4 linked regions of the Homo sapiens genome follow. The protein of the gene in region 1 purifies or fractionates together with the protein of each later gene. This does not show direct contact. Each region holds a gene or a part of one and is shown in the gene's direction. Other genes may lie near its edges.

What was found.
Region 2: the proteins of RNPS1 (region 1) and U2AF2 purify together in Homo sapiens (co-immunoprecipitation; 7 studies listed by BioGRID and IntAct, with this or other methods). This does not show direct contact.
Region 3: the proteins of RNPS1 (region 1) and CAMKV purify together in Homo sapiens (affinity purification with mass spectrometry; 4 studies listed by BioGRID and IntAct, with this or other methods). This does not show direct contact.
Region 4: the proteins of RNPS1 (region 1) and SNRNP70 purify together in Homo sapiens (co-immunoprecipitation; 8 studies listed by BioGRID and IntAct, with this or other methods). This does not show direct contact.

The regions. Positions count from the first base shown.
Region 1 is NC_000016.10:2,252,620-2,258,152, reverse strand, and holds the end of RNPS1 (RNA-binding protein with serine-rich domain 1), read left to right. Parts: intron 1-2,426; coding exon 2,427-2,568; intron 2,569-4,089; coding exon 4,090-4,189; coding exon of another isoform or gene 4,190-4,256; 3' UTR 4,257-5,033; downstream 5,034-5,533. UniProt on the Homo sapiens protein: Part of pre- and post-splicing multiprotein mRNP complexes. Auxiliary component of the splicing-dependent multiprotein exon junction complex (EJC) deposited at splice junction on mRNAs.
Region 2 is NC_000019.10:55,650,791-55,658,034, forward strand, and holds the start of U2AF2 (splicing factor U2AF 65 kDa subunit), read left to right. Parts: upstream 1-4,244; 5' UTR 4,245-4,314; coding exon 4,315-4,363; intron 4,364-7,244. Other genes in the region: CCDC106 (coiled-coil domain-containing protein 106), read left to right, coding at 493-705, 1,640-1,956. UniProt on the Homo sapiens protein: Plays a role in pre-mRNA splicing and 3'-end processing. By recruiting PRPF19 and the PRP19C/Prp19 complex/NTC/Nineteen complex to the RNA polymerase II C-terminal domain (CTD), and thereby pre-mRNA, may couple transcription to splicing.
Region 3 is NC_000003.12:49,859,889-49,866,914, reverse strand, and holds part of CAMKV (caM kinase-like vesicle-associated protein), read left to right. Parts: intron 1-3,254; exon of another isoform or gene 3,255-3,540; intron 3,541-4,512; 5' UTR 4,513-4,526; coding exon 4,527-4,621; intron 4,622-4,738; coding exon 4,739-4,870; intron 4,871-5,049; coding exon 5,050-5,124; intron 5,125-5,337; coding exon 5,338-5,476; intron 5,477-5,614; coding exon 5,615-5,735; intron 5,736-5,896; coding exon 5,897-5,972; intron 5,973-6,062; coding exon 6,063-6,199; intron 6,200-6,365; coding exon 6,366-6,444; intron 6,445-6,656; coding exon 6,657-6,744; intron 6,745-7,026. UniProt on the Homo sapiens protein: Does not appear to have detectable kinase activity.
Region 4 is NC_000019.10:49,088,425-49,095,450, forward strand, and holds part of SNRNP70 (U1 small nuclear ribonucleoprotein 70 kDa), read left to right. Parts: intron 1-1,866; coding exon 1,867-1,929; intron 1,930-2,041; coding exon 2,042-2,096; intron 2,097-7,026. UniProt on the Homo sapiens protein: Component of the spliceosomal U1 snRNP, which is essential for recognition of the pre-mRNA 5' splice-site and the subsequent assembly of the spliceosome. SNRNP70 binds to the loop I region of U1-snRNA.

The DNA.
Region 1 (5,533 bases):
GGATTTACTGAATCTATACAGTTTATTTCTTAAACACTTGTATCTCATAACCACTCATGACGTTTATAGCTATTTGTATCTGGCAGAATGGTTTTAAAAGCACATGGACCCTTGTGAATAGTTTCGGGTGGCATTTTGTCCTCAGTGCAGCATTTTGAGGCATGTGGAGTCATCTCTGCTCCACTCCCTGCTGCTGTGACTGAGGCCGCTGGCACTGAGAACACAGCCCACAGTGCTGTCTGGGCTGCCAGGCCTGGTGGGGAGTGGAGTGTGCGTGCCCCAGAACTTTCCGTCTTCCGAGGCCCTGTTACAAACTGTATAAGTAGCTTAGCTGGTTTTTTTCAGTAATTGCCCTTCAGGCATTAGGAAAGTTTCCTTGATATTTGGCTAACTTTTCTTTCAAGTTTCTTAAGTCCTGAAATGGGTTAGGAGCTCTGTGCGCTCACATCAGCTGTTGGCCTTGTAAGTCACACCTTTGCTGTGGAGTCTGCTGATTATCTGCTGTTTGACAGTCTGAGTGCTTGCTGAGCTAAAAACCCAGGGGACCCGGGTACCTTCTGGGTGGGCGTGATTACAGACATTCCAACTTTTCGTAAGATTCTGGTAGGATTTTTTTTGTGTGTCTCCCCTTCTGTCTTTGAATGGAGTGAGTCCATGCTGTCTCCATAGGAGATGAGAAGGGGTTGGCCTTTACTGGCAGCTACACAGAAGATGGATTTTTCTTCATTATTATAGAGTCAGTGCTGTGAAATCCCTAATTTGGGCTAACTTAGGCTGAGTTTACTGAAGTTAAACCTCTTAAGTATGTTCTGAATACATAGCCACATGCCGGAGTTAGTCCCCATGTGCCTTAAAGGTAGTTGAGAAAACAAAAGAGCCCTTTACCCCTTAGGGCACAGAAGGGGCTGCGCTTGGGCTCCCAGTATCCCCAGCTACCAGACAATTCTTGAGGTCGGGGTGCATGCTCCCCTGGGGTTCCTGGGTTTGCACCTCTATTTCCTTTCCTCTCTCCCTGGAGCCCACATCCCACACTGCCTCTCCTCGCTTCATGCACATGGCGTGTGTTTCAGTGCCATCTACATGCAGAGCCACCTCTCTGAGACTGCTTGTTTCCAAACACAAAGTCTTTGGCATCTCCTAAAATTTCCTTCATGCAGCTTCCCACCGCAGCCCCACCTCTCCGTCAGTGGAAGTTCACACCTCACCACCCCCATCCCATCCATCACCAAGCTCTGGCAATTTTACTTCCCAGCTGTCCCCTGAATCCTTCCGTTTCCCTGCCAAATCATTTGATGTTGATTCAGGCCCCTCTCAGTGCTGCAGAGCCCTCCTAAGAGAACTTCTCCCACTTCTCTTAGCCCCAGACCCAGCTTCCCTTGGTTGGAGGAGAAGGAAGCGCAAACGCGGATACTGCCTGCATGGTCCTGCGAGGAAGCCCCACCCTGGCCCTGGGGCCTTCTGTTTGCCTGTCACTCGCTCTCGATGCTACCTTCTCTCACCAGTGCTTTGGGTCCTTCCCAGCACAGGGCCCAGCATAGCCCTTCTCTTCCACCTAGCAGATTCCAGCACATTCTTTACTTTTCTTTTTTTTTTCTTGAGACGGAGTCTCAGTTGTTGCCCAGGCTAGAGTGCCGTGGCATGATGTCAGCTCACTGCAACCTCCTCCTCCTGGGTTCAAGAGATTGTTTTGCCTCAGCCTCCCGAGTAGCTGCGATTACAGGCACACGCCACCACGCCCGGCTAATTTTTGTATTTTTAGTAGAGATGGGGTTTCACCATGTTAGCCAGGCTGGTCTCGAACTCCTGACATTGTGATCCGCCTGCCTGGCTTCCCAGAGCACTGGGATTACAGGCGTGAGCCTCCGCGTCTGGCCTCCAGCACATTCTTTAGCTCTTGACTTGGATGACTCTTGACCTGGGAGGCTGCCTCGACACGTGGAGATTGGTGTGTCCTGTTAGTTTTTATGCCTCTTTTCCTCATGAAACATTAGTCATGATGTTATTTCTGTGATTATCTTTTTTTTTTTGAGACGGAGTTTCGCTCTTGTTACCCAGGCTGGAGTGTAGTGGCACGATCTCTGCTTACTGCAGCCTCTGCCTCCCGGGTTCACGCCATTCTCCTGCCTCAGCCTCCCGAGTAGCTGGTACTATAGGCGCCCGCCACCTCGCACAGCTGATTTATTGTCTTTTTAGTAGAGACATTTTCACCATGTTAGCCAGGATGGTCTCGATCTCCTGACCTCGTGATCCACCTGCCTCAGCTTCCCAAAGTGCTGGGATTACAGGAGTGAGCCACCATGCCCGGCCCTGTTTCTGTGATTATCTTACATTGTCATTGTCCCCCCAGGCCTGTCTTTCACTGTGGCATGCATTGTCTAGGGTAGATGCTTGTTAGATATTTTATGACTTGCTGTCTTTTTCAACAGGACAAATTGATGGCCAGGAGATCACTGCCACCGCCGTGCTGGCCCCCTGGCCTAGGCCACCCCCCAGGAGATTCAGCCCTCCCAGGAGAATGTTGCCACCACCGCCTATGTGGCGCAGGTCTCCCCCACGGATGAGGAGAAGGTAAACAATTTGTAGTTTCAGTGGACTGATCAGGCCACAAACCTCATGTGACCGCAGTGACTTTCAGACCCTTTATTCAGCCCTGCCTGCCTTCCACTGCTGTGCGGGCTGGCAGAGAGCAGGAGCCCTTCAGAGCTCATGGAGAGAGCAGGAGGGCCACAGCTGCAGTAAGCCACAGGCAGGAGACGCCCTAGAGTTGCACCAACACAGCTTTCTGAGTCTGGGCAGTGGCGTGGTGTGGCCTTCCTAGGAGACCACTAGACCTGTGAGCCCAGGTGCAGGCCCACCTTTTTCTGAGCTAACAAGAAGAGCTAGGAGAGGGAGAAGTTGGGGGTCAGAAGAGTTGTGGGGCGGGGGTGGTAATCCCTCGGCAGAGGCCACAGTTTGGTCTTCCGTTGCCGGTGGTGAGCTGTGCTTTCAGCCTTTGGGGAAGAGGAGGAAAGCCTGGGCTTCTGCCTTGGGTCTCACAAGCACCCGTTCCCAAGAGCTCAGGGCAGGCCCATCAGGTGGGACCTGTCCCAACTTCTAGTATTAAAAAGTAAAACTTCTGCCAGGCATGGTGGCTCAGGCCTGTAATCACTTTGGGAGGCTGAGGCGGGCAGATCACGAGGTTAGGAGATCGAGACCACCCTGGCTAATACAGTGAAACCTTGTCTCTACTAAAAATACAAAAAAATTAGCCGGGCGTGGTGGTGGGTGCCTGTAGTCCCAGCTACTCGGGAGGCTGAGGCAGGAGAATGGCGTGAACCCGGGAGGTGGAGCTTGCAGTGAGCCAAGATCATGCCACTGCACTCCAGCCTGGGCAACAGAGTGAGACTCCATCTCAAAAAAAAAAAAAAAAAAAGGTAAAACTTTGCCACGTGTGGTAGCAATCGCCTGTAATCCCAGCACTTTGGGAGGCTGAGGTGGGTGGATCACAAGGTCAGGAGGTCGAGACCATCCTGGCCAACATGGTGAAACCCCATCCGTACAAAAAATATAAAAATTAGGCCTAGCATGGTGGCTCACGCCTGTAATCCCAGCACTTTGGGAGGCCGAGGTGGGCGGAACACGAGGTCAGGAGATCGAGACCATCCTGGCTAACACGGTGAAACCCCGTCACTACTAAAAAAAACAAAACAAAATTAGCTGTGCGTGGTGGCGTGTGCCTGTAGTCCCAGTTACTCGGGAGGCTGAGGCAGGAGAATGGCATGAACCTGGGAGGCCGAGATTGCGCCTCTGCACTCAGCCTGGGCAACAGAGTGAGACCCCATCTCAAAATAAATATATACACACACAAAAATTAGCTGGGCGTGGTGGCGCGCGCCTGTAGTCCCAGTTGCATGGGAGGCTGAGGCAGGAGAATCGCTTGAACCCTGGAGGCAGAGGTTGCAGTGAGCTGAGATCGTGCCACTGCACTCTGGCCTGGAGACAGAGTGATATTCCATCTCAAAAAGTAAAACTATGGGGAATTGCCCAGAAAGAAGCTAGCTTGCCCCTACAGCCTGAGCTACTCTGATGTGGTTTCTCCTCTTCCCGCAGGTCCCGCTCCCCGAGGCGCAGGTCCCCCGTGCGCCGGAGATCACGGTCCCCGGGCCGCCGCCGCCACAGGAGCCGCTCCAGCTCCAACTCCTCCCGATAAACAGGCCACTGAAGCTCTCGCCCCTGTAACTTATACCCCACCCAGCTCAGTTTTGTCACTTTTCTAGCCAAAGGAAGACCAGTAGGAAAGCAAACCCTTGACTCTGGCAGGATTTGCAGGCAGCAGGCAGCACCCCTCTGCCAGCCGGGCCCCGGCTGCAGAAGTGCTGTTGGTTTGGATGCTGTGTGCCTGTCAAGATTCCCTCCGGTTTTCTGGCTAGAAAGCTCATCCGTTTCCGGTTTCTAAGAGTCAGTTCAGTGGCAGAGCCACCAGGGAAAAGTGAGGCTCTTGGGGGTGGTTTGACCCTGCTTACCTGGGAGCACACTTTTCCCTTCCCCGATGACCTGGGATGGTGGCCAGGCCGTGCCCTTGCTGTTGCTGGGCAGTGTCCTTTTGGAAAGGGAGCTGCCCCAGGCTTTAGTGCAGCTGCCAACCCTGTTAGGCCTGGCCTCTCGAGGCCTCTTCTGACCTCAAGGGTCACACCCCCTCAAAGATCCTCTCACCCATGGTAGTTGCTGCTCGTGGTTCTGTCTGTCCGTGCACCGATGCACACACCGCACCCCACCACTGTACTCTGAAATTGGCGAGTGAGTGGAGAGCCAGCTCTGCGGAGTCATCACGCAGCCATGGTTGTGCCTGCCGTTCATGGTGGTCTTTCAGGTTATCTTGGCAACATGTACATTGCTTTTATTTTTTTTCTTTTTTGCTTTCATTGTACAGTCAGTACTATAAAATTTCTCTTTTGAGTTTTATACCTTTGTAGCATTTTAGATGACATTGTGTTTGTACTTTGTTGTGTAGAGTGGAAGAATTGTGTTGAATAAACCCAAGATCGGAATGCAAATCTAGTTCTGGGTTCACTGCCTTCTCACTTGTCCCCTCGCCCCTAGTAACTTTCTGTTCCTCACCATCCGCAGTGGCACCTCCGATGCTTTCAGCCAGGAGAACCTAGGGTTTGTGTGCTGTGGGGACCAGGTTGCTCCTAGGGTGGACAAATAGAAGGAGATGGTTTTATCGCCACCTTGGAATGTGTGTGTGTTTTCAGACAGACTCTCGCTCTGTCACCCAGGCTGGAGTATGTACCATGGTGCGATCATAGCTCATTACAGCCTCCAACTCCTTCTTCAGTGTCCAGAGTAGCAGGGGCTAATTTTTTTTTAATTTTTTAATTTTTTTTTTGAGACAGTCTCTGTTGCCTGGGTTGGAGTGCAGTGGCGCAATATTGGCTCACTACAACCTCTGCCTCCTGGGTTCAAGTGATTTTCCTGCCTCAGCCTCCTGAGTAGCTGGAATTACAGGCACCTGCCACCATGCCCAGCTAATTTTTTGTATTTCTAGTAGAGA
Region 2 (7,244 bases), on another chromosome or scaffold:
TAGAGGAATCTGTGTCTGGGCCTCCGCCTGCCGGCTCCCTCTGTCTAGATGGAGGTGGGACCCAGCCTGCTGGACCCAGGGCCCCTGATTTCTCTCGGTCTGACCCCCCGACTCCAGCCAAGGCCTTGCCTGCCTCCTGGGTTTCCAGAGGCTACTCTCCAGAGGTCCCGCCCAGTCCCCAGAAATTTCTCCCTCCCCTATGGGAACCGCGCATAGTCACAGGGGTCCTGAGGCCCCTGGTCGGCTGCCTCCGTAAGACCTCTTGCCAACCCAGGCCTCTGAGAAAATGCTCCACCCATTACCACCTCCCACAGACCCCAACTGGCTCTACTCAGCCACCAGCGTCTCTACCGTACTCCTTGTCTCTCTGTCTCTTTAGGGGACCAGCCCAGGTTGGGGGATCCAGTTCGGGGACTGCAGCCTCTCTCAGTCCCGGGACCTGTGATGGGATGTCTGGTCCCTTGGTTCATGTGTGTGTCTCCATCTCCCCAGAGGACCACTGCCGGATGAAGCCTGGGCCCAGGCGGATGGAGGGGGACAGCCGTGGTGGGGCTGGGGGCGAGGCCTCGGACCCTGAGTCAGCAGCCTCCTCCCTCAGCGGAGCGTCCGAAGAAGGCAGCGCCAGTGAGAGGAGGCGGCAGAAGCAGAAGGGAGGTGCTAGTCGGAGGCGCTTTGGGAAGCCCAAGGCCCGGGAGAGGCAGCGAGGTGAGTGGGGTGCATGGGGCGGGCGCTGAGGGGCCCGGGCTGCTGAATTGCTGTGTGTCCTTCCCAGAGGTCCCCCTTTCTCTCCAAGCCCCTCCAGCCTTGCTGGAGAAAGACCCACCGGGTTCTGTCTCTCCCTCCTCCACGTGTGGTCCTGGGTTTACTTTCTTTTTTTTTTTTGGCGGGGGGGACGTCTTGCCCCGTCGCCCAGGCTGGAGTGGTGCAGTGGCGCATTCTCACCTCACTGGAATCTCCGCCTCCCGGGTCCACGCCATTCTCCTGCCTCAGCCTCCCGAGTAGCTGGGACTACAGGCACCCGCCACCACGCCTGGCTAATTTTTTGTATTTTTAGTAGAGGCCAGGGTTTCACCGTGTTTGCCAGGATGGTCTGGATCTCCTGCCCTCGTGATCCACCTGCCTCGGCCTCCCAAAGTGCTGGGATTACAGGCGTGAGCCACCGCGCATGGCCTGTCCTGGGTTTACTTTTAAGTTTTGGTCCACCGTCGAGGGCAGGGCCACCTTGGGCACCTCCTTAACTTTCATCAGTAAGGAGGAGGTGCGCAGTAGGACCTACCTCACGGGGAGGGTGAGACTTGAATAAGTGAATTCACCTGAGGCAGGGAGACGAGGGTGATGGCTCGGGGTGTCGGGGGGTGCTGGGACCGCGTGGGTTGAACCCGGCCTCTTGGCTCATTTTGTCTCCTCACTCTCCTTCCTGGGCCTGCCTCTTCCCATTTCCCACTGGTCCAAGATCTGGCTGCGATTCTTCCCCTCCTCTCTGCCCCTTCCTTGCCTGTTGTTCTCCGTCTCCACCTGCACCGGCCCGTGCCTCTGCTCGCCGAGATCCTTTCTTCCCATGGCCGTTTCCCTTCCCGTGTCCGCCCCCTCAGTCTTGTGCCCTGCCCCTCACTTTCGTGTCCCCGCCTCCACCCCTCAGTGAAGGACGCCGACGGGGTCCTCTGCCGGTACAAGAAGATCCTGGGCACCTTCCAGAAGCTCAAGAGCATGTCGCGGGCCTTCGAGCACCACCGCGTGGACAGGAACACCGTGGCGCTGACCACGCCCATCGCCGAGCTGCTCATTGTGGCCCCCGAGAAGCTGGCCGAGGTGGGCGAGTTCGACCCCTCCAAGGAGCGCCTGCTCGAGTACTCCCGCCGCTGCTTTCTGGCCCTGGACGACGAGACGCTCAAGAAGGTGCAGGCGCTCAAGAAGAGCAAGCTGCTGCTGCCCATCACCTACCGCTTCAAGCGGTGATCGCACCACGCCTCCGCGCCTCCACCCGGGCCTTCCTCCCCCGTGGACCCCGGTGGATGACCTGCCCCTCTCCCCGCCGCGCCCCTGCCCCTCCTCCTCGCTCCCTGGGTTGGGGGCTCCCTTAGCCGGGCCCCCAAGCGCGACGGCCCCGGACCGGCCGCGGCCCCTTCCCGAACGCCGGCACCCCCTTCCGCTTGGGCTGCCCAGCCCTGTCCTCGCCGGGCCCCTTCCTCCTGGAAAACCAGGCAGGCGGGTGCCCCCCCCTCGAGTGGGGGACTGTACAGACCCCGTCTCCGCCCTGGCCCCGCGGAGGAGCTGCCCACCTGATTCCCGGACAGACCTCCCCAACTCCGCGTGAGACAGAGAATTATTCAGATAATTTAAATTAAAAAACGACGTGAAAATTTGGAATAAACTTGGCCTCAGCCTCTTCCTAGGAGGGGGACGTGCCTGGGAGGGGGCGGCCGTCGCCCCGAAGACGGTGACGGGGTTGCGGGGGCTTCCAAGGGGGTGGGTGGTCAGGCGGGAGGACGGGTAGGATACGGTGTAATTAGCCCCCCGGAGGCAGAGATGGAGAGTGAAGCAGCTGCGCCCCAGAAAACTCGGAGGCAGAGCTCGGGAAAAGAAGCGCGGACACAGCCGGGCGCGGTGGCTCACGCCTGTAATCCCAGCACTTTGGGAGGCCGAGGCAGGCGGATCACGAGTTCAGGAGATCGAGACCATCCTGGCTAACACGGTGAAACCCCGTCTCTACTAAAAATACAAAAAATTAGCCAGGTGTGGTGGCGGGCGCCTGTAGTCCCAGCTACTTGGAAGGCTGAGGCAGGAGAATCGCTTGAACCCGGCAGGCGAAGGTTCCAGTGAGCCGAGATCGCGCCACTGCACTCCAGCCTGGGCGACAGAGACTCCGTCTCAAAAAAAAAAAAAAAAAAGTAAAAAGAAGCGTGGACACTACCCGCTGGGCTACCCAGACCGGAGCGCGGCGCGAGAGGCGTGAGTCGATGACCTCTAGCGAGGGAGGCCACCTAGCGGCCAGGCCAAGTCTGGAGGATACTTCCGTTGGGCCGCCAGGGGGCAGTAACGCCAGATCATCTGTCTCCCGGAAGTAATGCCAGATGATCCGTCTGCCGCGCCTGCGCGGCGGGAAGAGCCGGAGCGCGTTGATGTGGTTGCCGAGACAACCAAGAGGGTGGCCGGATTTAACGGCTGGGGATTAAGCACTTTCACCGTTGTAAGGGAAATCTCGCGCACGCGCAATGGGGACTGAAACCTGGTCCCCGCAACCCCCTTCACGGGAGCAGTGGGAGAGCGCGCCACAGAACGACTTTTACGCAGGCGCAGAAGCCTGTTTCCCCTCACCCGCGGCTTCCACCCTGCGCAGGCGCAAAAAGCCGCGCTGGCAACCTCCGCAGCGGTCGCGCGCACCCTTCATCCCTCTTGCTGCTTTTGTCTGGCACAACCTTCTCAGGCCCTCCGCGAGGCCGGCCCTTTTTTTCTTTCACTTTCCCCACCCGGAGAGCCAGGTGCCGAGAACTAGGACCTCGTCCCCTTCTCTATCCCTTCCCCTGATCCATCTCGTCTCTGTTCTCCTTCCCTTTTCCGTTCCCGAAGCCGGAAGGAGCCGAGGTACCCACGGAAAAAGTCGAAGCTGTCCCCGGAGAGTGAGGCCTTCACGAAGCGGTGGCGGAAGGAGCCGAAGTTCTCTGATCGGAGGCGTGAGCAAGTGGCATCTCCGGAAAGAGCCGAAACACGGACTCGAGCTTAATCCCAGGAGGGGCCCGAGGGCGAGATCCGGAAATCTCCGGAAAGAGCCGAAGGCCGGGACGGTTAGGATTGTCGGAAGTGGCCGATTGCTTGGACAGGGCCGGCGGAGAAGATCGGAGCAAGTCCGTGGAAGAAGCCAAAGACTGGGACGGATTGAATTGTTGGAAGAACCCGAACTCGCAGAGGGGACTGGGCGCAGTGGCACACGAGGACACACGGAAACCTCCGAACGTTGAGGAGATAATCTCGGAAAAGTTACGGAAACCTGGGAAGTCGGCGAAACCCTACGTTCGGGTGTTTTCGGAAGCAGCCGAAGCGGCCGCCTGCTTCGCCTTCGTCCAGTATCCGGAGATAGCCGAGGCGCTTCGGAGCCAGGCTCGGGGGGAGGGGCAAGCTCGCGGGCGGGCGGGCGGGTGAGGGGGCGGAGCCCGGGCGGGGCGGGGAGGGCTGCCGGAGGCTTGATTAGGTAGGAGGTGGCGAAGCGCCGGCGGCGGCCGGAAGTAGCCGAAGCCAGCGGCGGAAGTAGCCGAAGCGGCTGGAGCGGGCGGCAAGGCGAGGCGAAAGCTGCACAGGGCCCTACGCGGCCGCCTCAGCATGTCGGACTTCGACGAGTTCGAGCGGCAGCTCAACGAGAATAAACAAGGTGAGGGCACCGGGGTCGCGGGGCGGAGGTGTGGGCGGCTCCTCGCGTCGCTCTTTGCCCCCCCGCCATTTTCTCCCTCGCTTCCCCCCACTTCACGGCCGCGCGGCGCCCCCCAACCCTGGTTCCGTGGCGCGCGCCTCGTTCACGTGACGTCCCCAGCGTTCCGCCGCGCGCTAGGCGAGGGGAAGGGGGCGGCGGGGCGCGGGCCCGTGACGCATGCGCACGGCGGCTGTCCCTGCGCCCCACGTGGTCCTGGCGGAGGTGGCGCGGGGGACGCGGCACGAGCGCGCCAGATGCCTCGACGTGAACTTTTGTTTTTTAAAATCTTTTTGGTTTCTCTGAAAAGGAGATTATGTTAGTCCCCGTAATCTCTTTTCTCCCGCTGCCTTGGCACTTCCGCTTCCGGTCGGGCCCACGGCAGCGTCTCCACGCCCCCTTTGTTTCCAAAATGGCGGTTGTGAGAACTTGGTGGGGGGGCCCCTTTCCTTCCTTCACGTGGATGAGGGCAGAGCCGTTTCGGCGGATGCTTGGAGGCCACGGGCCCCTCGCGTACCCCTTTTCCTTTTTGCTGATTTGCTCTGATCTCTCCCGCCAGGTGGTTTCTGCCCCGTCTGTTGGTAGTGGGGCGCCTCATATTAACGTGTTTGGCACATGTTGCCTAAAAGCATCTGCATTCTTTGAGTGTCCGCACGCACACATCCTGCATATGCGGGGCTTTTGGCGGTCCCGAGAATCGCGATATGGAGTGTTTGAGACAAACCTCAAATCATTTACAATCCCAATCTCAGGGCACCTGATAATACTCAGTCTCAGATCTCAATATAGAGATAAGAAAACAGGTTCTGAGGGAGGAAGAGGGATCTGGCCCACTGCGCTAAACTCTTCACTTACGGGGAAGGTGGGAGGCAGGTTCCCTTCAGGGTATCGAAAATTGTGATGGGTTAGAACAAAAAGCCTGGGGCCCTGATCTTAGGGATTCCAATAATATTAGAAGTGGGAGAGTTGTTAAGACGCTTTAAAAATCCTCCGTGTTTCAGTTTGTGAAGAAATACAGGACCAGGGAAGATTGGAGACTTGTTTCTTTTCAGGCTTCAGCTGCCCATGTTCCTAGCTCGTTCGGAGGACGAAATGAGGGCTGAGGAATTTTCCTTTGAACCCGGGCTAGAGTTGGGTAGGGGCTGTATTAGGAAACAGTGTCCTGGGGAAGCAATAACGTTTACTGAGGGTCTGACTCTGTCTTAGTTGATGGACTGCTCAAGAGCATAGGCTTTGGAGTTGAGCACATCAGGAAGTTTAGATACCTGCTTTGTCGTTTAGTAACTGCTTTTAATACGTTTATATATTTTTTTCCATTTGTAGACTGATTATTATTTTCTTGTTACCGGATTTTGAGAAGATTAAAAAGGATGATAGTAACGATAGATGTAGTTAAACTCTGAGCGCTTACCGTGTGCCAGGCTCTTCGCTAAACTCTTAGCATGTTTTACTAAGTGGATCCTTTTAACAGCCTTGTGAGGCCAAAATGATTTCCACCTCTACTGGGGAGGAAACTGAGGGCTCAGAAAAGTTAAAAACTTTCTCAGGGCTCAGCTAGTCAGAGGCAGAGCTGAGATTAAATGGGGTAACATGTAAAGTGTGTGGCATGTGGCTTTGCGTACACTGGGTGTGCAGTAAGCGATATTTGCAATTGTAAAATTCCATGCTTAGAGAGGAGGGTCTTCCGCTCACAGAGATTGTGTCAGAGTTGGGAAAGGGCAGGAAAAGGTGCTTTCCAAATGTCATTCTGCCACACAACACCTGGATGGAGTAGATACGACCCTCGTTTAAAGAGAAAACCAAGTCTTAAAGGCTAAGTTGCTTTTGCATGGTTTTTGTTGTTCATAAGCAGAAAAGCAGGTACTGATTCTGAGCTCTGGCTGCAAGGCCAAGTTCCACTCTGCTGGACCAAGTGGAGCTGATTGGGCGGTTCTTTGAGGCTCTCAGATGGTGCTTCACCGGTTCTCCCGGGGTTTCCCTTTTGGTGCTGGTAGGGCAGTCCCTGAGACCTGGCACGGCTCCTGGGTTGGCGGAGCTGCTCCCATAAGATGACCACAATACAGTGTTTTGAGCAAACGAAGCTCTCATTGTTTTTACCTGTCCAGCATCAGTGTGTGGGAGAGGGTTCTTGCCATAGGGGAAGCTCTGCCCGCGTGTCACTGCCTGTAGTCTTTGTCTCTGCGGAGGACGGGCCAGCTTCTGTACGTGTCGCCTTCTGCTTCAGTCCTTTCCTCTGCTACCTGTATCTACAGGGAATTTCCTTGTCTATATCCCAGGCACCCAGCGGGCATCATTGCTTTCTCTGCGTGGGTTCCTGTCTGCCTGCTTGCCTGTTTCAGAGCCTTAGCAGCAGAAAGGGCTCTTGGGGCTCACAGCCTGTCCATCTTATAAGCGAGGAGCTGTGCCCAGTGCCGTGCCTGTGTGCCCGCTGCTCTACACTGCTGGCCTGTCCTGCCGATTGTTCCTCCCAATTTCAGTTTTTGATTTTGGGGTTTTTGGCCTTCAAGGGGACAATTATATTGTCATTAATGGTTCTAGCCAGACCTGAGTGTTCTGCCTGATCCACATTCGAGAGTATGGCCTCGTGCTTAACTCACTGATGTCAGAGTGTTTAAATTCTGGTGTCACCATTTCCTAGCTGTTTGACCTTGGTAATTGTGATCTCTCTATACCTTAGTTTCCTTACCCATTATGTCAGCCCCCAGCAGTGTTTTTCCGAAGCAGTAGTGAGGATTAAGAACAAACAAAACAATTTAGTACAGATTCCGGTTGTAGGAAGCATCTCAATATTTGTTGCTGTTTTTTTCCCTGCTGGGTGCATATTTTTCTGAGTGTTGGTGGTTTT
Region 3 (7,026 bases), on another chromosome or scaffold:
GTTTATGTCTATGAAAGGTAGGGCCTGAACCAGGATGATCTCAGCGGAGGAGGGGACAGGACCCCAATGTGGGGCCTCCGGACCTCTTGGCCTTTGTCCCGTTTGGGCTTTCCCTGGGCCAGACTTACCTAAAGATGCAGCAGAGTCCCTGGGGGACCATTTATCACCAGGGCACCAACAGAGGACCCCTCAGGATTGCTGGAGGCTCAATTCCCTGAGTCCAGTGGTCAGGCCCTGGGAGCAGGCCATAACTGGGGAGTGCTTGGCTCTCAGGCTCCATGAGAGCCAGCTGGAGGGCAATGGCCGCACCAGGGCCTGCACTCCCCACAAGCTCCCTCTGGGCAGCCGGTAGTGCATACTGTTCAGTTCCTCTGCAGAGAGTGGAGGGAGCCATGTCTCCAGGGAAATGGCTGTTGTGGAGCTCCCATGCCCTTCCATGGCCTAAGTGTACCTGAGGAAGAGCTCAGATCCTGTGTTGCTGAGAGGAGAGCTCTCCATTGTTGGGTGTTGGGTCTGGGCCATGGGGGTGAAAAATACAAACCCCTTCCACTTGGCCTCCTCTCTTTCTGAGAGCTGTCCCTTGGCTGTTCCTCCCAGGTCTCCTTTGTTGCAAGCAGGTGCCCAGGGCTTGGTGCACACACCCGAAACCTCCCAGGGAGCAACAGTGGATAGCAGATGGTGGAGTGGGTGTGGGCAGAGGGAACCAAGGTGCTAATTGAAAGCCAGGCCCCTCTTTCTCCTCTCTTTGCCCTGGGGCCAAGTCCAGGGCCCCAAGCCAGTATACTTAGACTGGTGAGGAGGAGGAGGAGGAGGAGTGACTGGCTGAAATTTGGGCAGCCATAGTAGGGGGCAGGGGAGACAGATCTGTTCCCATCTCAGCCTTGAGGCTTCAGGACATGGCTCCAGGCTGACATTACGGGGTGGAGGCCCAGTTTTCTGTGCCTTTCATGGGACAGACCCCCATGACCAGCCCTGGACCTCAGTGGGCACGAATGCATATGCAGAGCCGAAAGCTGGGGCCAGGATCAAGGACAGGCATGCACAAAACCTCCCACCCACGCCACACTGGCAAAGCTGGGAGCTGTTGGAGTGGGGTGGGGGGTGGGGCATGGAGGTTGTGGAAGGTATCTCAGAAAAGGGCCATTTTGAGTCTGGCCTTCGAGCATCAGGATTGTTTTGGACAATGTGTTGCACAAACCACCTTATAATGTCAGAAATCACAATGAAAGAAGAGATTCAGTTCTGCTCTCAGCACCTCGCTCATGTGGCAGCTGCTCCACAGGAAAGCCAAGGTGGGCAGAGCTCTTGCCAGTGCCCACACTTCCTACCATTGAGTGGACACAGTTGAGCTGGCGAGTCACCTGTTGTTGGACATTTAGGTAGTTGCTGAATTTTTTTTAATGTTATAAATAACTCTGCCGTGACAAATAGGAATCTGACGGGAGGCTTTTGGGGGAAGGGCACTCTTGCCAGAGGGAATGGTGTAAGCAAAGCAACAGAGCCAGGGCACAGGTCCCTCCCAGCCTTCTTGGGAGACTGCAGGCTAAGGTACCATCCTCCTGCCCAGTACACGGCCCTCAGACTGAGATGACTGTTGCAGGCCCCCTCCTGCAGCTGTTATGGTGTGAAAATGTGTAGCCGGCAATGGTAACTGGCTATGCCTCTGCTCTCAGCTGTGAGGATGGGATTCTGGCCACATGCTTCTCCCCAGTGGAGGAGTGCAGGGTTGTGCCCATGGTGGCAGACATGCAGTCAGTGACGATCTTCAAAGCCTCTCCTTTGTCTCTGCTGTGCCTCGCAAGATGGCTTAAACCCTGTCTGGAATAATGCTGATGAAATGCATTTGTATTCCCTGAGCCCAAGCAACCCAGATGAAGGAATGATAGAGTTTGTTCCCTAATGCTGAAGGCAAATCTGAGGGAGAATTTCCAGGGCTGTGACTCCTGGGAATCACAGCCTGGTGGCTGGCTTCTGCCTGGGAGGAAGCAAGTAGCAGCCAGGGTTGGCTATGGGGCTCGTTTGGGTCCTGGTCTTTGACTTTGGCTGGCAGAGTTCATCTTGCCAAGCTGCCTCCTTTGCCTCCTCCCTTCTCCACTACCTTGAGGCTGTGAGTGCCTTCAGGTCGGGGAGCATCTAGGTACCCCCAGGCCCTAGCTCAGGCCCTGCACACAGCAAGTGCTAATTGGCATGGAGGGAAAACATGCACAGTCAGCAGAGGCAGAGCAATTTCAGCGCAGCCTCAGTGCAGAGCTTGCTGTAGCCCCAGTGTCACACTGACCGGGTATTATGGAGGCACACCCTGGCGTCAGATCTGTGAAGGTCTAGTCAGTAACCCCCCACCCCCAGCTTTGAGCATGGGCTATGAGTGCCTTTTCCTTTGGACACTGGAGTCAGCCCCCCTAGCACTACAGATGAGGATTGGGCTGTAATTGGCAGGATTGCAGACCTGTGGGACACCGTGCCCCAGGTGGAAAGAGTGCCTAGCGCTCACTGAGCCAGCTATATCTGTTCTGTTTGGGGGCCTTGCACCTGGACCTGACAGCCCAGGTCCCCTGTGGGCCCCAGTGGGCATGAATGCATATGCAGAGCCGAAAGCTGGGACCAGGATCAGGCTTGTTTTGCTCTTCCTGACCAGTACACCTGCATACCTCCTGGCAAATCTTTTCCTACTGAGTCCTAATGCTGCCTCCAAAGCTTTACCTTGCCTCTCCACCCAGATTATCCCTCTGAGGAATCCCCCAAGCACTGTGCCTGAGTGCAGTATTTACTAAATTCATCGAAGTCATTATAGTAAAATAGTAAAAATTCGCACAGAAAATTAGTAAACAAAAGATATGTCTGCCTTTTTGACATCCAATTCTTTGCCCAGGAGAGAACTCTTATTTCCTTCAGTATTCTTCCAGAAAAGAGTTTGTGAGGGTACATCAGTATGTAAACTTTAAAAAATTTACCCAAGCCAGGTATGGTGGCTCATGCCTGTAATCCCAGCACTTTGGGAAGCTGAGGTGGGAGGATCACTTGAGCCCAGGAGTTCAAGAACAGCCTGGGCAACGTAATGAAATCCTGTATCTACAAAAAAATTTTTAAAAATTAGCCAGTTGTGGTGGTGTGCACCTATGGTCCAGTCCTAGCTACTCAGGAGGCTGAGGTGGGAGGATCGCTTGAGCCCAGGAGGTTGAGGCTGGAATGAGCTGTGATCATTCCACTGCATTCCAGCCTGGGTGCCACTGCATTCCAGCCTGGGTGACAGAACAGCTGGGCATGGTGCGGGTGCCTGTAATCCCAGCTGCGGTGGGAGGATCGTTTGAGTTCAGGAGCTCTGGGCTGCAGTGCGCTATGCCAGTTGGGTGTCTACACTAAGTTTGGCATTAGTATGGTGACTTCCTGGGAGCTAGAGCTCATCAGGTTGCCTAAAGGAGGGGTGAAGCAACCAAGGTCAGAGACGAAGCAGGTCAAAACTCCTGTGCTGATCAGTAGTGGGCTTGTGCCCATGAATAGCCACTGCACTCCAGCCTGGGCAACATAGTGAGACTTGTCTCTAAAAAAAGAAAGAAAGAAAGAAAAGAAAAGAAAAGAAATAGGTCTTCCAGAATCCCCCCATGTGTCCTGAATCAATCATAACCCCTCCTTTTCTCTTAGAAGGGACCATTATCTGACTCTGCTTATTTCCTAGCTTTTCTTTATAGCTCTACTGCTGTGTTTGTATCCCCCTTACGGGTTTGTTCTGCCTGTTTGAACTCTATCAATAGACTCATACTATATGTATTCTTTTGTGTCTTTTTGCACTTAACACTGTGTAAGAGTCACCAGGTGGTTGGGTATAGCTGTAGCTCCTTTGTTTCCATTGCTATATAATATTCCATTGTGTGACTCTACCACAATACATCCTGTTGGTGGTGGTATTTGGTCTGTTTTCAATTTTTGGCGATTATGTATATGGCTACTATGAGCATTGTATGACTGTCCTGATGCACGAATATGTGCACTTCTGTAGGCACGTATTTAGGAGTGCAATTGCTGGTTCATAGGGTATGTTTGTTTGACTTTAGTGGTTTTACCAAACTGCTTTACAAAGGGGAGTTTGCCCTCTCCTAGCAGTGCTCACGTTCTTCATATATCCACTAACACTTGTTAGCTCTAGACCTTCAGAGATGACTAGCAGGTGGGTGGGTGGTTATAGCCCCCTTCATCTGTAAAATAGCTGAAATTTAAATAAACTGTTTGATAAGCCTTTTTTTTGAATGTATAGAATACAAAACTATTCCCTTATATATCAGCTTAATACATTTTTTCATATGTAGGCTGTTGCACTTCAGGCAGCCAAGCTGAGTAGCTGGATGTCTAGCCAGAAAAGCAGGGGTAGGATCTAAGCCTGCCTATCCTCTAGCCCCTCCTGGTATGGTCTCTGCCCCTAGCTTGGCCTGAGCCAGGTTGGGGTCTCCCAAAAGCAGCCCCTATGTTGTGGGGAAGTGGAGAGTAGTACAGCTAAGCCAGACCCCATTGTGCCCGCAGGTTAGAGCCTGGCAATGCCGTTTGGGTGTGTGACTCTGGGCGACAAGAAGAACTATAACCAGCCATCGGAGGTGACTGACAGATATGATTTGGGACAGGTCATCAAGACGTGAGTGCCGGGCCTGTCAGGCAAGGCTGGGTGGGCTGGTGAGCAGGGGCTAGGGAAGTGGCAGTGGAGTGCAGCTGATGCTAAGGCCAGGCCTGAGTGGGTGCCTGTCGGCTGCAGTGAGGAGTTTTGTGAAATCTTCCGGGCCAAGGACAAGACGACAGGCAAGCTGCACACCTGCAAGAAGTTCCAGAAGCGGGACGGCCGCAAGGTGCGGAAAGCTGCCAAGAACGAGATAGGCATCCTCAAGATGTGAGTTTGAGGCCTGGGATTGGGGCGGGGTGGGAGGCAGCAGGGAAGGGCTTAGAGGGCAAGTGGCCTCAGGCAGTCCCAGCCTCTGGCCAATTAGTCTGCTGTGGCCACTGTGGTGACCACAGCCTCTCCCAGGGGTTCATCCAGCCCTAACTACTGGCTCCCCTCCCTGTCGCCAGGGTGAAGCATCCCAACATCCTACAGCTGGTGGATGTGTTTGTGACCCGCAAGGAGTACTTTATCTTCCTGGAGCTGTGAGTGTGGGTCTGGGGACCCAAGATTCCCCAGCGCCCAGGGCTTTCACCTGTCCCACCCTCTGCAGCTAAGGAAACCCCCTTTCTGGACCCTTGGCGTCCCAGGTCCCTGTGCCTTGCTCAGCCAGCTGCCTGGCGTAGGCAGCTCACCCAAGTGCTCCTGCCCTACCCCTGATTCTGCCCACGCCAGGCTCAGGGGCTGGTGTCCCTCAGGGCCACGGGGAGGGAGGTGTTTGACTGGATCCTGGACCAGGGCTACTACTCGGAGCGAGACACAAGCAACGTGGTACGGCAAGTCCTGGAGGCCGTGGCCTATTTGCACTCACTCAAGATCGTGCACAGGAATCTCAAGGTGAGGGCAGAGCCAGAGTCAAAGGGCCAGTTGGCAGCTGGGCTGGTGCTGGGGTGGGCAGCACCTCAGGGCCTTGGTCTAGCCTCCAAGGTCCTCATGGTGTCTTCTGCTCACCCACATGCTATTCTCACACCACAGCTGGAGAACCTGGTTTACTACAACCGGCTGAAGAACTCGAAGATTGTCATCAGTGACTTCCATCTGGCTAAGCTAGAAAATGGCCTCATCAAGGAGCCCTGTGGGACCCCCGAGTATCTGGGCAAGCAGGGGGTGGGGCAGGGGCAGGGGGATAATGGGGGGCAGCCTTCAGGGAGCTGCTCTGGGCAGGGGGAAAATGTGCTCATCTCAGGAAGCTGGTGTGGATGGTACTGGACCTGGCTAGGCCTGATACTGACCAGCAGATGGGCGCTGTGTTTGTAGCCCCAGAGGTGGTAGGCCGGCAGCGGTATGGACGCCCTGTGGACTGCTGGGCCATTGGAGTCATCATGTACATCCTGTGAGTGGACAGATGGACAAGCAGGCTTGCAGTCAGATGGGGTGGGGGCATGTGTCTGTGGCCTTTCTGTGTGACCCTTCCCCCATGCAGGCTTTCAGGCAATCCACCTTTCTATGAGGAGGTGGAAGAAGATGATTATGAGAACCATGATAAGAATCTCTTCCGCAAGATCCTGGCTGGTGACTATGAGTTTGACTCTCCATATTGGGATGATATTTCGCAGGCAGGTGAGGAGGTGCCTGCCCAGCACTTGGTAGAACGCAAGGGAGTGGGGAGGGTGTCCTGCTCTCATCTTCCTCTGTGGTATTCTGCTTCTGTCCCCCAGCCCATTTATCACCTCTAGACATTGAGATGGGGTGCCCATGACTATCCCCTTCTTGGTTTTGTCCACAGCCAAAGACCTGGTCACAAGGCTGATGGAGGTGGAGCAAGACCAGCGGATCACTGCAGAAGAGGCCATCTCCCATGAGTGGTGAGCAGGGTCCAGGGGAGGGTGGGAGAGGCCAGGGTCCCCCTCACACCCAGCAGCCCCATCTTTGAGGCCTGGAAGGGGTGCAGGTACCTAGAGCTCAGGGCAGCCCAGAGGCTCTGCCTGGTAGTCCCTGGATGCCACATAGAAGGGCTGAGCAGAGTCTCCACAAAGGCTCATTCTCTCAGATCCAGACACACTTGCACCCTTTCCAGGATTTCTGGCAATGCTGCTTCTGATAAGAACATCAAGGATGGTGTCTGTGCCCAGATTGAAAAGAACTTTGCCAGGGCCAAGTGGAAGGTAAGGCTTGGATAACTCCCTTCTTGGCTCTATCCCAAGTATTGCTTCTGGCACTCAGTTTCTTGCCTGCATCACACCCCTGCAGCCACACACAAGCTTTTCTCAGGCCATCAGGTGTGGGTGTAGCCACTGTGATTACCTTAAGTAGGAGTGCTGAGCAGCTGAGTACTTGGCCCTGGGGTGGATGGAGGTGGCCGGGGGTACTATGGAAGGAGTTTGGTTTGGTCACTGCCAAGCAATGGATCCAGCAAGCCTCACCCTTAGCCTTTCTCCACTGTGCTC
Region 4 (7,026 bases), on another chromosome or scaffold:
TCCTGACCTTGTGATCTGCCCACTTTGGCCTTCCAAAGTGCTGGGATTACAGACGTGAGCCACCGCACCCGACCTTTTTTTTTTTTTTTTGAGATGGAGTATCGCTCTGTTGCCCAGGCTGGAGTGCAGTGGCGTGATCTAGGCTCACTGCAACTTCCACCTCCCGGGTTCAAAGGATTCTCCTGCCTCAGCCTCCTGAGTAGCTGGGATTACAGGCACGCGCTACCATGCCTGGCTAATTTTTGTATTTTTTGTAAAGACGGGGTTTCACCATGTTGGTCAGGATGGTCTCAAACTCCTGACCTTGTGATCTGTCTGCCTTGGCCTCCCAAAGTGCTGGGATTACAGGCATGAGCCACTGCACCCTACCAGCCAGTTCCTATTTAATGTGTGGTTGATGAGACCTTTAAGAGCTGCCTTGGCCCTCAGAGGGTGTGCAGTTGTGGGCTTTGGAGCCCTGTTCTGTCAGCTTATGTTGCTTTAGGCCTGGTCATCCTCACTGGCACTCATAAGCAGGGCCCTGCCATCACTCCACTCCCATCACATCCTCTGGCACTTTGTTCAATGTGAGTGATACTTGGAGCTGTGAGAAGCAATGTCTTTCCTAAATATGGAAGACAGGGTGTTTCCTAAATACTATAAAGCTAGATGTCACCTGTACCAGTGCTTTTCAAACTGTCTTTGGTGAAGGACAGATACTGTTTCCAATCTGTTTGCTTTTGATAAATATGATAGAATTACTTTTTAAAGAAAGATCTACAGTCAGGAGTTCAAGACCAGCCAGGCCAACATGGTGAAACCCTGTCTCTACTAAAAATGCAAAAACTAGCCAACATGCTGTCGTGTGCCTGTAATCCCAGGTACTCACTCAGGAGGCTTAGGCAGGAGAACCGCTTGAACGATTCTAGTCAGTTGCTGGGTTCCTTTTAGAGAGACGGGCACAGGGGGGAAAGCAGGGCTTAGAATCGCTTGAACCTGGGAAGCGGAGGTTGCAGTGAGCCCAGATCGCGCCATTGCACACCAGCCTGGGCAACAGACCACAACTTCGTCTCAGAAAAAAAAAAGACCTACAGAATAAAAGACCAAATTTGTATTAAGAGTCAGTGGACATCAAATTGTGAAATTACTGTAGAAGTTCCTGAACACTTAGTCCTGGTTTCTGTACTTATCACAGTCCAGCAACAGTTTAGATAGTACTGGTCCATGGACCATGCTTAGTTTTTGAGACAGGATTTTTTTTTTTTTTTTTTTTTTTTGAGACGGAATCTTGCTCTGTTGTGCAGGCTGGAGTGCAGTGGTGCGATCTCGGCTCACTGCAACCTCCGCCTCCTGGGTTCATGCCATTCTCCTGCCTCAGCCTCCCGAGTAGCTGGGACTACAGGCGCCCACCACCACGCCCGGCTAATTTTTTGTATTTTTAGTAGAGGTGGGGTTTCACCATGTTAGTCAGGATGGTCTCGGATCTCCTGACCTCATGATCCGCCTGCCTCGGCCTCCCAAAGTGCTGGGATTACAGGCGTGTGCACTGCACCCGGCCTTTACACCTGGCTAATTTTTAAATTTTTTGTGGAGATGGTGTTTCACTGTGTTGTCCCAGGCTGGTCTGAAACCCCTAGGCTCAAGCATTCTCCCTGTGTCATCATCCCAAAGTGCTGCGATTACAAGTGGAAGCCACTGTGCGTGGCTGCAGACCTTGCTTTGATCTGTGCCACTCCCCTCCCTCCACTGTGTCAGGGGAAGTGTGCGTGGATGTTTATTTTTGTAGGGGGTGGGGGTGGGAGGGTTAACCTGTTTATTTCCTTGGTGAGTGTCCCTTGCCATTTCCCCCAGTCCTTCCCACCCTGTCACCTCTCTTCTTGTTCCCAGGACCCTCGAGATGCCCCTCCTCCAACTCGTGCTGAAACCCGAGAGGAGCGCATGGAGAGGAAAGTATGTCATTTTTGCTTCCTGACCCCCTGTTTTACCACTGTCTCCAGATGATCCTTGACACTAGGGCACTTCTATCTGCATTCACTTCTCCACCTCCCCTTTCTCCTGACAGAGACGGGAAAAGATTGAGCGGCGACAGCAAGAAGTGGAGACAGAGCTTAAAATGTGTAAGTCTCTCATCCACCATTTGGCTCTCTCCTCTCCCAAACCCTCTGTATTCTTCCCAGGTCATACCCAGGACCCTGCTGTCTCCCTAAGGCCTGTGTTGTGGGGAACAGGGTTGTTAGTTCATTTGTTTAGCCCCTGCCACTTCACAAGCACTGTTTTTGGTTTAGGCTTTTCAGCAGCAGAACATAGGGTAAAAGTTGGCAGGAAGGGAGACCCCTGGTACCTTGGGCTCCTCCTGCATGGGAGGACAGTTAAGGGGCTCCCACAACCCAGCTGGGTGTCACAGGCTGAAGTGGTGGGTTGTGGGATAGTGGTCTGTCCTGGCTCTAACCTTAGGTCCCCAACCCTTGGGCTGAGGATGTTCCATCCCCTCCACATAGAGGAGGAATTGGAGTACAAGACAGGTGTGTTGTTGCCATTAACCAAACTCATAAGAGGGTCAGATGTCAACCTCCAGTGGCTCTTTATTCTGAAAGTGAAAACTGTACAGTCACAGGCAGCATAGCAGTGTTTCACTCAGCAGGGGACCGTGGATGTGATGGTGATCCTATAAGATTATATCATATTTTGCCAGGCACTGTGGCTCACGCTGTAATCCCAGTACTTTGGGAGGCCGAGGCAGGCGGATCATGAGGTCAGGAGTTCGAGACCAGCCTGGCCAGCGTGGTGAAATCCTGTCTCTACTAAAAGTACAAAAATTAGCTGGGCGTGGTGGCGAGCGTCTGTAATCCCAGCTACTCGGGAGACTGAGGCAGGAGAATCTCCTGAACCCAGAAGGCGGAGGTTGCAGTGAGCCGGGATCGCGTCGGCTCACTGCAACCCAGCCTGGGCAACAAGCAAAAATCTGTCTTAAAAAAAAAAAAGATTATACCGTCTATTTACTGTACCCTTTCTATGCTTTGATAACGTTTAGATGCACAAATACTTACTATTGTGTTAGGATTGCTGTAGTATTTGGTGTAGTAACACGCTTGGCCTCGGAGCAGTGGGACGCACCCTCTAGCCCAGGAGTGTTAGGTATGCTGTCTAGGCTCGTGGAAGTGCCATCTCATGTTGGCATATCGACATCATCATCAAACGACGCACTTCTCAGAACATGACTCTAGTGAGAAGACAGGTTTTCCTCCTATACCTGTGAACTTTGATGAATCCCTTTCCTCCAAATCCTGGAGTGCAGGATTTCCTCACGGTGCTTACGCAGAAGCGTGACAGAGACATCTGGCGGTGCACTCTTTGGACATTGGCTGTCGGAACGCTGTCTTGATGTCCTGCCTCAGAGGCATCTCAGACTCAGTGTCCAAACCACAGGGGTTTTCCCTCGCCACCAACCTGGTTTCCTTTGGGTGTTTTCTCTGGGACATAGACATTCAGCTGTGCCGGTCATGACCTCATTTTTTGCCATGCAGTTTGTTTCTAACACCTTTTCTAACCTTTTGCTCAGCCTCTCACCAAGACCTATTTGTGTTATTTTCTAAATGTCACAAATCTGACCCTTCTTTTCATGTCCATCATCACCACCCAGGTCACCTCTTGCCTAGACAACACAGTCACAGTCTTAACTAGTTTACCTATGTCTTTTTGTTTGTTTGTTTGTTTGTTTGTTTTTTGGAGGCAGCCTCGCTCTGTCGCCAGGCTGGAGTGCAGTGGTGCAATCTTGGCTCACTGCACCCTCCGCCTCCCAGGTTCAAGTGATTCTCCTGCTTCAGCCTCCCAAGTAGCTGGGACTACAGGCGTGCGTCACCACGCCCAGCTAATTTTTGTATTTTTAGTAGAGGCGGGGTTTCAGCATGTTGACCAGGATCGTCTAGATCTCTTGACCTTGTGATCTGCCCACCTTGGCCTCCCAAAGTGCTGGGATTATAGGCATGAGCCACCGTGCCTGGTCACCCCCCTCCTTTTTTTTTTGAGACGGAGTCACGCTCTCTCAATCAGGCTGGAGTGCAGTGGTACTATCTTAGCTCACTGCAACTTCCGCCTCCTGGGTTCAAGTGATTCTCCTGCCTCAGCCTTCTGAGCAGCTGGGACTACAGGCGTGCGCCACCATGCCCAGGTAATTTTTGTAATTTTAGTAGAGATGGGGTTTCACCATGTTGGCCAGGCTGGCCTCGAACTCCTGACCTCAGGTGATCCACCTGCTTCAGCCTCCCAAAGTGCTGGGATTACAGGCATGAGCCACCGCAGCCGGCCTAGTTTGTCTATATCTTAACCAACCACATCCACTGTGGGTCTTCTTTTTTTTCTTTTTTGGAAAAACTTTAAAACTGAGACGGGGTCTCACTATGTTGCCCAGGCTGGTCTTGAATTCCTGGGCTCAAGTGATCCTCTTGCCTCAGCCTCCCTCAGTGCTGGATTACAGGTGTCAGCCATTGTGCTCAGCCTCTTTTTTTTTTGTTGTGTTTTGTTTTGTTCTTAGGGACAGGGTCGTGCTGTGTTGCCCAGGCTTTACTGCCGTGGTGCAGTCATAGCTCACTGCAACCTTGAATTCCTGGCCTCAGGTGATCTGTCTGCCTCGGCCCCCAGAGTGTTGGGATTTCAGGTGTGAGCCACCATGCCCAGCCAAAAGTGTTTTTCATTTTTTGTTTTTTGTTTTTTAGATGGAGTTTTGCTGTTATTGCCCAGGCTGGAGTGTAGTGGTACGATCTAGGGTCACTGCAACCTCTGCCTCCCCGGTTCAAGCGATTTCCCTGCCTCCTGAGTAGCTGGGATTACAGGCATGCACCACCATGCCTGGCTAATTTTGTATTTTTAGAGACAGGGTTTCTCCATGTTGGTCAGGCTGTTCTCGAACTCCCGACCTCAGGTGATCTGCCCGCCTCGGTCTCCCAAAGTGCTGGGATTACAGGGCGTAGCCACCACACCCGGCCAGAAATGCTTTTTAAAAACGGTTCCACCCGGGCGTGGTGGCTCACGCCTGTAATCCTTCAAGGCAGGTGGGTCACCTGAGGTTGGGAGTTCGAGACCAGCCTGGCCAACATGGTGAAACCCTGTTTCTGCTAAGAATACAAAAATTAGCCCGGCGTGGTGATGTGTACCTGTAATCCCAGCTACTCGGGAGGCTGAGGCAAGAGAATCCTTTGAACCTGGGAGGCGGAGGTTGCAGTGAGCCGAGATCACGCCATTGCACTCCAGCCTGGGTGACAGAACAAGATTCCATCTCAAAAAAAAAAAAAACAAAAAAAAAAACAGTTCCAGGCCAGGCACGGAGGCTCATGCCTGTTGTCCAGCACTTTGGGAGGCTGAGGCAGGCAGATCACATGAGGTCAGGAGTTCAAGACCAGCCTGGCCAACATGGTGAAACCCCATCTCTACTAAAAATACCAAAACAAAAACAAAAACAAAAACAAAACAAAACCTAGCCAGGCATTGTAGTGGGCTCCTGTAATCCCAGCTACTCGGGAGGCTGAGGCTGGAGAATTGCTTGAACCCGGGAGGCGGAGTTTGCAGTGAGCAGAGATAGCGCCATTACACTCCAGCCCGGGCAATAAGAGCAAGACTCCTTCTCAAAAAACAAACAAGTAAGTTCCAATTGGGCGAACAAAAAAGTTCCAATTGAGGAATTTGAACACTGGATCATAGATGAGGTTAAGGAATTAGTAAATGTTAACTCTAAGATGTAATAGTGGCACTGTGGTTATGATGTTTAAAAGCCTTTGTTAGAGACCAAAATGGTGTGCTATCTGGAATTTCATTTAAAATAATCCAGCCGGTCGTGGTGGTTCACGCCTGTAATCCCAGCACTCTGGGAGGCTGAGGTGGGAGGATTACTTGAGTGATCCAGGTTCGAGTGGTGAATATGGTGAAACCCTGTCTCAACTGAAAATATAAAAATTATCTGGGTGTGGTAGCAGGGGCCTCTAATTGCAACTACTTGGGAGGCTGAGGCAGGAGAATCACTTGAACTCAGGAGGCAGAGGTTGGGGTGAGCTGAGGTCATGCCACTGCACTCCAGCCGGGGTGACAGAGCAAGACTCCGTCTCAAAAAAATGCAGTGGGCTGTGGGAGGATAGGGATGAAACAAGTCCGTCCACGTGTTGATAATGGAAGCGGGCTCATGGGAGTTCGTTATACTGCTCTGCCTCCATTAAATGCTTGAACTTCTCCATAATAGAAAAGAAATAAAAGAATGGATCAAGTTCAGTAGGGTTTCTGTGCCCTTGAGAGCCTCCACTCATAGCTATAGAAGCTTGCTGTGCCTTGTCACAATGAACAGCTCCCGTCAAGGGGACGGTGCCTCCTTGCTGAGCGCTTGTACTTGGTGTTACTGACTTTCTCACAGCTTCCAAGTGCAGCAGGGGTTGCTACTCCCATTTTTAAGATAAAGAAATGGAGGCTTGTTGAGGCAAGCACGCTTCCAAAGAGTGAGAGTTCCAAGATGGGACCTCGAGTACCTCAAAGCCTAATTCCCAACTCCACGACCCACTTCCGTTGAGTCTCTGCTCTGGGCTGCTACTTAGATGAGCCCTCAACCAGTGATGTCCTGAGGGAGAGCTGCCGTCAGGGCGCTGCACGCATACGCTGGCTGTGGGGCGCTGCCCGGCATTGGGTCTGTGCTACCTTCTTTGAGCTTTTGTTCTCTATCTTCAGGACTTGGGGGTACCATTGCTTTGCTGCATTTGCTTTTTACCTTTAGTCACATTTGTGGCCCCCCCACCCCGGGTAAGCAAGTGCTCCAGGGAACTCACACAGTGTGCTGGGGTGGTTTCCCTCTGGCTGCCCTTCAGGAAGCTCAGCTGTTGTTTGGCCTTCGTCCACTCCCCAGCCCTGCAGCATTCATTGGTCCCACTGTCATGCTCCACAGTAACTGTTAGAATGCCTGCTGTCTGGCGTTGCCGGGTGTGTTTCCTTGCTGCTGTGACAGCTTTCAGCTCTTCATTAAATGTTAGCATCTTGTGAGGCTTTTTCTAACCTGCCTTGTAAAGTCACCCGTTT